Linked DNA regions of Homo sapiens. The protein of the gene in region 2 purifies or fractionates together with the protein of the main gene of each other region. This does not show direct contact. Each region holds a gene or a part of one and is shown on either strand. Other genes may lie near its edges.

Region 1 (5,554 bases), on a different chromosome or scaffold from region 2:
CCACTATTTACCACAACCCGTCTTTGGAAAGAAGTTCATAGTGTATTCTGAACAAACCAAAGCATTTACTCGGAAGTTACATTCCCATGCCTGGCAGTCACTTGTGTATGTTTAATACAGTTACACATGATGTAATTACAGAATGGCGGCGCTGGAAGGGACCTTGTAGATCATTTAGTTGGCACCCTAATTTTACAGAGGGGGAACTAAGGCCAGAGTTGAGAGATGTCCTCAGGATACCTGAGTCCCATTCCAGTGTTCGTTCAGTAATTCATAAGGAAGTCATCATAAAGGTTTAAAAAGAAAACGTTAATGACTCGCTCCCTTTATTCTTCTGTGCTGAGAGTATCATTCTGGTTTATTCAGATTAAGAAAGAAATACACTACTGAAATGGTATGAAACTCACTGTCAAAGGGCACTTAGGTCCGTTGGCTCCGTTTCCCACAGTTCCCCAAATGAACAGGTGGTACAAGACTCAGGCTTTCCCCTAATTACTTACTTGGGTAAAGTGACTTGGGTAAAATGAAAGATACAGCCAGGCGCTGGGCTCATGCTTGTAATCCCAGCACTTTGGGGGGCCAGGGCGGGCGGATCACGAGGTCAGGAGTTCAAGACCAGCCTGGCCAACATGGTGAAACCCCGTCTCTACTAAAAATACAAAAGTTAGCTGGGTGTGGTGATGGGCACCAGCTACTCAGGAGGCTGAGGCAGGAGAATTGTTTGAACCCGGGAAGCGGAGGTTGCAGTGAGCCGAGATTACACCATTGCACTCCAGCCTGGGCGACAGAGCAAGACTTACTTAAGTAAGTAAGTAAGTCAGTCTCAAAAAAAAAAAAAAAAAAAAGACAGATACAGCTATCATTGCAATGATACTGTGGTCTCATCACATGAGCTAGTTTTACAGGTAACTGTCATTTGAGAGAACGAATGGACTTTTCTTGTCTTTTGATAGGCTCCATGACAATTCAAAAGGTGAAGGGATTGCTGTCACGTCTTCTCAAAGTTCCTGTGTCAGACCTTCTGTTGTCCTATGAAAGTCCCAAAGTAAGTTGCCCAGCAAAATACAAAGTCAAAGTCAAGCTTAGTCCTCGTATTATGACATTAAACTGTCTCTAGATAGCAACAGTTTGATTCTAAATGGAGACCATGGGTCTGTTTGTTTGATTTTAAGGGTAAGCTACTGCCTGGGGACGGGGTGGGGGAAGAGTATGTGTAGCATGCTTTATCGGATCTGTCTTAATCACATCCTTCCCCACCTTCGTTCTAATTTTAGAAGCCGGGCAGAGAAATCGAGCTGGAAAATGACCTAAAGTCATTACAGTTTTATTCTGTGGAAAATGGAGATTGTCTATTAGTGCGATGGTGACAACCAACTAATAAAATTTAAAGACCACACTGCTTATCGTGTCTGGGGTTCACCGGAAATAAATGATTCACTGGAACAATTCTACTGTCAAAACAAAGGGGGTTTACAACTTGTCCTAAGTATAACAAGGGATGTATTTTTTGTTGGGAAGTGACCATTTCTAGGCTTATACATAATAGCAATAATAAAGGCTTTGAACCTACTAATGATTTTCTGATCTTATTTCATATTTATTTTTACAGCTCATCACTGCATTTCATGATAAGATTTAAATATTAAATAGAAAGAAACTAGCTAGCCTAATAAAATCTGAACACAGTTAATATCTGTCATAAGACTAGTTTTAATGGAATTCTCTATTGAAACTACTATTTTAAAGGGTTACTAGAAATGATTTGGTTGGTCATTTTGGGAAATGTCCCTTAAACTTGGGGAGACATCCTCTACTATGTATAACAATATGCTATTATCTGTCTTCTCAGTTGCACTATTTCTAAGAGTACTTAAATTAATCACATGCTTTTCCCTACAATTATACCTAAGCTGAGTATATCTTCTTCTGTGATAACCAGCTTTGATTGAAATGTACTCATATTAGGTAAACATTAGGCAATGATAGGAGGAAAGCAAAACTAATTCTTTCAAAATGTCAACAAAATTTAGAAATATCCTTCCCGATGGCACTAAAACCCTGAGAGGTATTTGCTTTTATTCATACTCACACAACTTTAGCATTTAAAAACTATGAGTACTAAACTGTGACCTTCAGGATTTATGTTAGATGGCAGAAAGAAAATTTGGGTATTAGTCTACCATATAAATGAACTTCTTTAAAACCAAGGTTCAGAACTGAGAATCATATTGGTTCCTCTTCAAGTTAGTTCAAGTTGCCCACTTCAGAGATCCACAAAATCTGACATTATTTCCAGAAACCCCAAACTTTGGTATAAGTGACCACTGCTCAAATATGTGATCACATGATCACACAGCATTCCTGTGAGTTCCTTTTTGTCTGATAATTATCCTAATTAGCTCTACAGAGCTATCCTGCAATCCAGGTTGAAATTCAAACTCTCAGTTACTACTACAGATTTCTGAACTAGGCCAAGTTTTAACCAAAAACTATAGGTAATGGTGAATTACTAATTAGCCACAATGCATCAGGATTTAGAAATATTTTTTCTTTTATAAAATAACTTGGTATTTTTCTGATAATCTTCCAATAGATAAATAAAAACTTTTCTTATGCTACAGTACAAGTTGATTTTTAAGGAAATTTGTGCAAACATTAAGAAACACCGCATTGGTTCTGGGTGAAAGTGCCAGTCTGGAACTCTCTTGAAAGACCATACAGTCTACTGCTAAACCCTGGGACTCCTCAGACTTGCACTCAGATTATCGTTTGCCTGCCCTGATTTTAGACTCTGCTAATTCAAGTCCCTGTTATCTTGCTTGACATCGACAAGGATCACCGCACCGTTCCTTCAGTTTCCACAGTTCCGTCAGTTCCCACGGAGAATACTGAGGAGAAGACAGCATTCCTGTCTCACAGGTCTTCTCACACAGCCACAGACTGTCCTGTTGAGAAACAACCAAAGCCGATCTGAGAGTGGTGAAACTGTTTTAAGAGCATCAGAAAGTATGCACGTAGACAGCTTTTATGTATTCTAATGATGCTGAAATTATTTCAAGGATAACTCCGTGTGTGGAACAACTGGTGAGGTTTGGGGGTGGCACCTCCTGATTTGGGAAAGCACCAGGTCCCACAGTCCTGTGGCTGTGGAATACAGAAACAAGGCGGTGTGTGGATGAAGAGTTAGTCAACAAATGCCATTCCGTAATGAACGATTTTAGAAACCACAAGTGAGTTTCATGTTTGCTAGTAAAGGTGTGTCTATGGCAGTATTAGTAACAGCTATTATTCTGATGGAATGCTTACAATATTGCAGGGACTGTACCAAGTGCTTTGTAAATATCTCACTTAAATCTCACAGTAATGCTGTGAGGTAGGAACTATTTCCCTCTTAACAATTGAGGAACAAACGAAGAGTTAAAAAACTTGTTCCAGGTCACAGGGCTGGTAAATGAAGAGGAGGGATTAAAGACTCCCAAGCTCAAGTTCTTAACCACTAGACTATTTCCTAGCTACGTGAATTGGTTTCTATTTCCAGCAATGTAGCAGAACACAGAGAGAAACTCATTCAATGTTTTGACAACACAAAAATGTTGGATAAAATTAAAAACCTTTATAAAGCATGGCTCAACTCCGTGATCAAAGAAGAAACAGGGTAGGAGAAAGCACTGAGTCAGCCTGTGCCTTGAAGGCAGCTGCTGATCCTTGGGTTTGGAAGGCCAAGCCCAGGGTCAGGAGACTAATGGGAGACTGACACAGAGCTAGGATCTCTGAGGGGCCACAGCCTCAGGGGTGATAAAACAAAACACACTCAGCTTGTCTGTCTCAGTCTTGCCCCTCAGTGGGATGGAAAGGAGTCTCTCTCCCCTCAGTGCCTACCCACAGCTTGCACTTAGGTAGGTCTGGGGCTGGTAGTCAGTCTGTGTAAGCCCAACAGTTCCAAGCCAAAAATCTGAAGTATTCATAGATGGTAGTATTCCTAGATGCATGGCAGAAAAAAATGTAAATATGTAAATCCTCTCTGTAGGAATGCATTTTAAATAGAGGACTCAGTTTCCAAAGACATGAGATGGTCACAAAAAAAAAAAAAAAAAAAAGACCGCATCAGAAAACAAGCGCCATGAACAACAGTTGTAGAAACAACAAACTGCAAAATCAGACCCAGCAAAGACTACAGATCCCAGAATTACCAGATACAAAAAAGAATTATATTCAAAGATGAGACAAAGTACAGCAAAGGAATCAGACTATCAAAGTGGACCATGTAGATGTGGGTTGATTTCTTGTCCTGGACTGAGAGCTGCTCTGGGACCCCAGCTCTATGCAGGGCTTCTAACTGACAGACACTGCATGTGCCTTCTGTCCCCTGCACCTTCGATGGCCAAAGTGGAAGCTGCAAGAATCCAGAACAGAAATCTCTGAAGCTAAAGCCAGCTTTGTGCTTGATTTCTTCCCAGGGCTCTAGTTTCCATTTTGGTCTCTGCAGATTCATTTTTTTTTCTGGTTCAGCAATACTGTGTTTTAAATGATGTCTTATATTTCATGCAGTGTCTTATTTTTATCGGTCAGAAGGGTTGAAGGATCCTTAGACTGCCACACTCAATCAGTGGATTCTGTCGTTCAGTTTTTTTTTTTGAGACGGAGTCTCGCTCTGTCGCCCAGGCTGGAGTACAGTGGTGTGATCTTGGCTCACTGCAAGCTCTGCCCCCCGGGTTCATGCCATTCTCCTGCCTCAGCCTTCTGAGTAGCTGGGACCACAGGCGCCCGCCACTATGCCTGGCTAATTTTTTTTGTATTTTTAGTAGAGATGGGGTTTCACCGTGTTAGCCAGGATGGTCTCCATCTCCTGACCTCATGATCTGCCCGCCTCGGCCTTCTGTTGTTAAGTTTTAAAGCTGCAAATAATTTCTGATCAAATCTATGGAAACTGAGTTTTTTTGTAGGCAGGGGAACGTTGATTTATAACCTTTTGCTTTAAACTCAGAAAAATACTGTATGAGAAATAACCTAGTGGATTATTGTGAATTAAAGCAACAGCATAACTATTATGGTAGAAGATCCTCATTCTTTCTGCCCATGGTGTGATAAACATTACAGGTTGAGCATTCCAAATCTGAAAATTTGAAATCCAAAATGCTCCAAAATCCAAAACTTTTTTTTTTTTTTTGAGACAGGGTCTCTCTCACTCTGTTGCCCAGGTGGGAGTGCAGTGGTGCATTCACAGCTCCCTGCACCCTCGACCTCCCAGGCTCAAGTTGATCCTCCTACCTTAGCCTCCTGAGTAGCTGGGACCACAGGCAGGCGCTGCCATGCCCAGCTAATTTTTTTGTAGTTTTTGTAGAGACGGGGGGTTTCACCATGTTGCCCAGGCTGGTCTTGAACTCCTGGGCTCAAGTGATACACCCACCTTGGCCTCCCAAAGTGTTGGGATTACAGGCATGTGCCACTATGCCCAGCCCAAAACTTTTTGAGAGCCAACATGACACTCAAAGGAAATGCTCACTGAAGCATTTCAGATTTTCAGATTTGGAATGTGCAACTTCTAAGTATAATG
Region 2 (7,037 bases):
AAATTAGCTGGGTGTGGTGGCAGGCGCCAGTAATCCCAGCTACGCAGGAGGTTGAGGCATGAGAATGGCTTCAACCTGGGAGATAGCATTGAGCCGAGATCACACCACTGCACTCCAGCCTGGGTGACAGAGCAAGACCCCATGTCAGCAAAAAAAAAGAAGTTAATATATACTAAATGAATTAGCTTTCTCTTCCCATTTAGGTAGAGGAGGGGTCAGGACTAGGGGTAAAATAAACCATTGGAAGGGCATGGCTGTCTTCTTGTGCTATTTTTTAGAGAGAAAGCACTTCATAGATGCTCTTTTCACCTTCTCATTTCACACTTTTCTCTTCTGGAGACAGGGAGGCCCTAAAAAACAATACTGGAGTAGAAATGAGAAAAAACGGGTTTGATATCCAGCATTGCCACCTATTGGCTGTGTGGCTTTGTGTAAGACACCTACCTGCATTGAGCATTGGTTTTCTCTCTGTAAAATGGAGACAACAGTAGTGCTTAAATTCATAGACCTGTTGAGAAGAGTAAGTAAGACCAAGGATGTGAAAGTATTGTGAAATATTCTGCAAATGTAAAATGTTAATACGTGTAAATGTTAATGCCCATTAATTCATTCAACCAACCAACATGTACTGAGTATCTGTTACAGTCCATTCTCTATGTTAGACTCAAAGTTGATACAAAGGCATAGACCCTATCTGGAGGTGCAAGGTCAAGTATGGGAGGCAAACAAATAGTTATTAAAATCCAATGTGGTAAGTACAATAATGGAAATATAAGGTCATGGTAACAGAGGAGATTGTACCCAACTCTGCTGGTCTTTTCTGCTTGCATTGAAGAGAGTGGCTTATACTCATCTTACTTGTTTATTGTCCCTTTAGTTATCTTTTATATTTTACCTTCAAACTGCTAGGCTCACTATCTGAACTCTTGCTCTCTAACCTCAGTGGGAAGATGTAAATGCTGCTGCCTGTGACCTCGCCAGGGAAGTGGCTGGCAAAGGTGATGCTTTGGTAGCAGGGGGGATCTGCCAGACATCAATATACAAATACCAGAAGGATGAAGCTAGAATTAAAAAACTTTTTCGACAACAGCTAGAAGTTTTTGCCTGGAAAAATGTGGACTTCTTGATTGCAGAGGTGAGGCTAGTATTGGAGGAAAAGGATTGAACCTATTTTGCAAGCATAACTGCAGAGTCTTCACATTTCATGAGGGTATTGGACAACATTCTGCCCTCATTTCTTCCATGTGGATGGTCAAAGGTTTATTTAAATGCATGGTAGTCAAGGCCAACATTCCCTCATTGGTATGCTAGGTTCTCTTAGAGCCAAAGGACAGACCCAAGAGAGGCCTGACCATAGCCTTTTATCTTCTAAGGTCTGGGTGGCTGCAGAAGCTGACTTGGGGGACTCTACAACCTATAAGGAAGCATAGGGCACAGTGCCTCCGGGAGCACCCTCTCCAGAGGGAGAATCCACACAGGAGGGCACTGCATGTGTGGGCTGGGGACTGAGAGAGCAAGGCCTGGAAGGTGGTGGCTATCCAGGCTCGTCTAGGCCCCACCAATAATGCTCAGCACCCAGTAGTTTCCATAGCCTTCTCCATCCATGTCTTGCTCTTCTTGCCTCTCTGCTTTCACTCAAGCTATGACATGTGAATTACATTTTGAAGAAAGAATCAGTAAGAATTGGTCATTGATTGGACATGAAGGCCCAGAACATTCTCTTTCCTCCACTTCCAAAACGAAAGTCCTCATTCCCCATTTCCCAACATAACTGCTACTGCCTGGGGTCATGCCTTCAACCCACAACTTTACTCCAAACAAGAGAATATCCCCTGGCTTGGCGCGGTAGCTCACACCTGTAATCCCAGCACTTTGGGAGGCCAAGGCAGGTGGATGGCATGAGGTCAGGAATTTGAGACTACCCTGGTGAACAAGGTGAAAGCCCATCTCTACTAAAAATACAAAAATTAGCTGGGCATGTTGGTGGGAGCCTGTAGTCCCAACTACTCTGGAGGCTGAGGCAGGAGAATGGCTTGAACCTGGGAGGCGGAGGTTGCAGTGAGCCAAGATAGGGCACCACTGCACTCCAGCCTGGGCGACAGAGTGATACTCTGTCTCAAAAGAGAGAGAGAGAGAATAGCCGCCACCATTATTCCCCCTAGTGACCCCACTGAACTCTACTGAAAACCTTGCCTCATCCTCCTGCCCACGCCTGGCCAACCCCACTGGGAACAGTCATCTGCAGGGACAAGCACAAATTCCACCCTCTGTGCTTTCCAGATGGATGATGACACCACTCTGTTTGTTTAAGAACCCGTCTTTTGATTCTCTCATAATTCCTCACACTGCTTCTGCAGAATTTGTTTCTAACTCAAGAGGGAAGAAACAGGAAGATTTCTGGCTTTTCTTTAGTTGCCTTAAGGTCAGCTTTTCAGCTGTGGCACTGAAGGGGCTTCCTGGGAAGCACCCAAGAAAATGACATGGGTTTACCAGACAAGATGTCCTGTCCACCACTGGCAAAGACAGGGAGTAGCTATTTCTCCTATGCTGTGCCTCAATCTTCTCACCCGGGGAAATGGTGCTTCCCTTCCTACTTTATGGAGCACTTATGAATATCTAACTAGAAGTGAATATAAAAGCTCTTTGAACTATAACACATGATAAGCTACTCATTGTTTCAGAGATTACCCCAGTTTTATAAGAGATGAATCTAAAATTTATTAGCAAAACTTTTCCTCCTTCAAAATTACAAAATTATGATTTTAAATACTCAATTACTTTGAAAACCTCTGGGTGTGTTTTCTTCTTTTTTACTAATAGGCATCATCTCACTGAATCAATGAACCCTGAATGAAAAACTATATGTTATTGTTATAGGAATGAAAATGTTTACTCAGAAAGGTATTCTTTAGTCAGTCTGATAGACACACATTCCTTAGCAAGTTTTATTATGCATATGTTTATATTCTATTTGGTAATTTTTATAACTGTTTTGCTATATTTACCTTTACCATTCAAAATCTGCTTTATGTTTGGACCAGTAGAAAAAGTGACATTTCTCTTAGTATTTTGAGCACGTTGAAGAAGCTGTGTGGGCTGTGGAAGTCTTAAAAGAATCAGATAGACCCGTGGCAGTTACCATGTGCATAGGCCCAGAGGGAGACATGCATGATATAACCCCCGGAGAATGTGCTGTGAGGCTGGTGAAGGCAGGTAATTTGGACCCATACCGTGATACACAGCTCAGTTGTTGCTTACGAAATTTAACAAAGTGTGCTTGATATTGTGAGAGCAGTTTGGAAATAGAAGAATGAACTCCAATCAGTTTTCTTATCTGTAAATTGTGGGAGGTGGAGGGGAATGGCTAACCTCTAAGGTACCTTCCAACTATTAAAAAAAAAGAATAAACAAATAAATAATAAAATGTAAGTGTTATTTCTTTGCACAGGGGCTTCCATCGTTGGCGTGAACTGCCGCTTTGGGCCCGACACCAGCTTGAAGACGATGGAGCTCATGAAGGAGGGTCTTGAGTGGGCAGGGCTGAAAGCGCACCTCATGGTGCAGCCTCTGGGGTTCCACGCGCCTGACTGTGGCAAAGAGGGGTTTGTGGATCTCCCAGAATATCCCTTTGGTAAGCTCAGGTGCATAGTAGAGGTCCTTGTATTTCTCGTGACAAAATCCAAATGGCTATAATAAATTGTGGCCCAGTTTTACAATAAGAGACTGCATATGACAAAACATTCAGAGTTAACCAAAAATGAGCTATCAGAAGAATGCATCATCTAAAGTTTATAGTTTTTTTAATTGGAAAAACTGCTCATTAGAGCATCCATCATTTGAAAATGAGAACAGTAACAGAAATGCTGTTAACTATTGTGATTCAGGACTGGAGTCCAGAGTTGCCACCAGATGGGATATTCAAAAATACGCCAGAGAGGCCTACAACCTGGGGGTCAGGTACATTGGCGGGTGCTGTGGATTTGAGCCCTACCACATCAGGGCAATTGCAGAGGAGCTGGCCCCAGAAAGGGGCTTTTTGCCACCAGCTTCAGAAAAACACGGCAGCTGGGGAAGTGGTTTGGACATGCACACCAAACCCTGGATTAGAGCAAGGTAAGCATTTTTAAATTAACATTCTTATTATTTTCCTTTAATCTCATTTTATTTATTGTTGTAAATGTCATGCATGCACATGACAAAAAGTATAGAAATGTATAAAGTGAAAAGTAAAAATTATCCCCTTCCTGATACCAGCTCCATTCCCAAAATTGTCTTTAGTCCATTTGGGCTGTTAGAACAATACCATAAACTGGGTGGCTTATACACAACAGAAATTTCTTTCTCAGTTCTGGAGACTGCAAAGTCCAAGATCAAGGTGTCAGCAGATTCAATTTCTGGTGAAGGCCTTAGAGATGATAAAGGCCATCTATAAGGAAGCAGGCATTCCTTATAGATGATACCTTCTTGCTGTGTCCTCACATGGTAGATGGGGCACCACAGCTCCCTGGGGCCTCTTGTCTTTTTTGTTTGTTTGTTTGTTTGTTTGTTTCTGAGATGGAGTCTGGCTCTGTTGTCCAGGCTGCAGTGCAATGACACAATCTCGGTTCACTGCAACCTCTGCCCCCCAGGTTCAAGTAATTCTGCCTCTGCCTCCCGAGTAGCTGGGATTACAGGCGCCCACCACCACATCCGGCTAATTTTTGTATTTTTAGTAGAGACGGGGTTTCACTATGTTACCCAGGCTGGTCTCGAACTCCTGACCTCGTAATCCGCCTGCCTTGGCCTCCCAAAGTTAGAGTGGGGCCTCTTTTCTAAGGGCACTAGTCCCATTCATCAGGGATGCATCCTCATGACCCAATCACCTCCCAGTGGCTCCACCCCCTAATATCATCACACTGGTGACTAGGTTTCAACATGTGCATTGTGGGGACACAGACAATCAGACCATGGCACAGAGGAAACCTGTTTGTCATTTGTGTTTTGAAATCTTGTACCTCTATTTCTTTTGTCATCAGTTTTAAGTGGTAACTATTGATAACCCTTTATGAAAGCTGAGGGATTTAAATCACATAGGCTTCCCCTTTTCCCCGTTCTCCTTTTTCCAGTTTTGATTCGTTACACTTTTATTTCTTCTGTTGGATATCTTTTTAAGTTAAAATTATATATTTAACCACCTGTTTCTTAGTTCATCAATATAAGGCAGGAATCTCTTGACTCCACTCTCTGTAAAATAAGAATAGATTCCCCTCTGCTTCTTTCCACCTTCCCTCTCTCATCTACCCCTTGGTGTCTTTAAGTTTTACCATACTTTACTATCATCAAGGTTTATAACCATTTTGTTCTATTCTATAGTTATAATTGTCTTTCAAGCTTTCTCTGTAGGTTGATCCTAAAAATATAAAATCAGTGAATAACATTTACAATATTATTATAATTGTTATATTAAACAAGCAGGACTCATGAGACATAATTAGAATTCACTTTTATTTTTGTCTCCCTCTATCCCTTTAAACCTACTCAATGAATTCCTTCGTTTGTTCCTACTTGAAAATACTGACCAGCTCTAGAACTTCTCTGGGTGCTCTTAGGCAATGGAAAGTTCCATAATCACTTTATTTCACAGATAGTCTCAGTTCAGTAATTAAAAGTGTTTAGGACTGGGCACAGTGGCTCACGCCTGTAATCCCAGCACTTTGGGAGGCCGAGGCTGGTGGATCACCTGAGGTCAGCAGTTCAAGACCAGCCTGGCCAACATGGCAAAACTTCATCTCTACTAAAAATACAAAAGTTAGCCTGGCGTGGTGGCGGGAGCCTATAATCCCAACTACTCGGGAGGCTGAGGCAGGAGAATCGCTTGAATTCAGTGGGGTGGAGGTTGCAGTGAGCCAAGATTGTGCCACTTAACTCTAGCCTGGGCAATAGAGCGAAACTCCATTTCAAAATGAACAAACAAAAAAACCCCAAAAATAAAAAATAAATAAAAGTGTTCAGGTTCATGTCAAATCAAAACTCAGAGCATGTTTGAAACTTGAAGCTTCTCCCTTTGTCCAGCAACAGCCTTCCACAGACAGGAAACCAGGAGAGGCCAGCGCGCTGCTTCTCTTTCTCTGTTATGCTCCCAAACTTCCCTTCCCATCTTGCTACCATGGTTTCTGGCCTCCTCAGATTCAAAGTAAGAAGAAAGAGGATGGATAAAGGAGTAAGACTGTTGTTGCTTGCCTGGCACCCTGATAGGAAGCCGGCATCCTCTGACCCTGGCAGATCTTTGTGAGCACGCTCATGGGTCTTCAGAGGCTCCCACTGGAAACTTTTGTCTGTACTTCTCATGCCACAGGCATTTTTCTGACTGTGACTTCTGCCTCAGACAGTGGCTTTTTCAACCAGGTCACTCCAGATATACTCTGATTTGGGGGTCCTGTTGTCCTCCCCGGTAATTCTCTTGGGCCAGATTTTAGATAGTTCAGGCTGGCTCTCTCACTCTCATTAGGCTCAAAACAGCTTTCACCCTTTCTGCAGACAAGCCATGAGAGTGTGGTCTGACCCCAATTTAACAGCACCCCTTTTGCCCACAAGCAAAGTAGCTGGCCCATTGTTCTCTTGTGGTCCAGATTTTCCAGGGGACAGTCAAATGAGTCATCTGGCTGGTTCGTGGCCACCTCCTTTTAACTTCTGTGCAGTGTCTGTCTTGCAACTCCCCTTGATACCTAAAATCCATCATGCCTTGGTGTTTCCAGTCAAACTTCCAATCTAATACTCTGTTGCAGGAATAATAGAAAATTGTTGCATTTAGAAAAACGTTCACTGCAGAACAAAGTAGTATGCATGGGACCATGGATAAAGAGAAATAATCCTATTTACAAAACTTGAGCTACTTGTTGGAGAATGTTCCAAGCATCAAGGTCAAATGAATTTTCTTCTCTTGCATTCCCGTGGATATATTGTCCAAATCCATGCCATATTTCAATTTGCTTCATACTTGGTCTGACTTTCTTTGTATAGCCTTTGGTTTTCTAGGGATTTCTGATTAACTTCCTTTT

What was found. Proteins that work in one complex are often made in the same cells at the same time.
Region 1: the proteins of BHMT2 (region 2) and TBCE purify together in Homo sapiens (affinity purification with mass spectrometry; 3 studies listed by BioGRID and IntAct, with this or other methods). This does not show direct contact.

Annotation. Positions count from the first base shown.
Region 1 is NC_000001.11:235,447,396-235,452,949, forward strand, and holds the end of TBCE (tubulin-specific chaperone E), read left to right. Parts: exon of another isoform or gene 1-953; coding exon 954-1,045; exon of another isoform or gene 1,046-1,274; coding exon 1,275-1,367; 3' UTR 1,368-2,810; coding exon of another isoform or gene 2,811-2,945; 3' UTR 2,946-5,048; downstream 5,049-5,554. Other genes in the region: B3GALNT2 (UDP-GalNAc:beta-1,3-N-acetylgalactosaminyltransferase 2), read right to left, coding at 2,845-2,945. UniProt on the Homo sapiens protein: Tubulin-folding protein; involved in the second step of the tubulin folding pathway and in the regulation of tubulin heterodimer dissociation.
Region 2 is NC_000005.10:79,079,744-79,086,780, forward strand, and holds part of BHMT2 (S-methylmethionine--homocysteine S-methyltransferase BHMT2), read left to right. Parts: intron 1-943; coding exon 944-1,135; intron 1,136-3,065; coding exon 3,066-3,213; intron 3,214-3,448; coding exon 3,449-3,631; intron 3,632-3,884; coding exon 3,885-4,113; intron 4,114-7,037.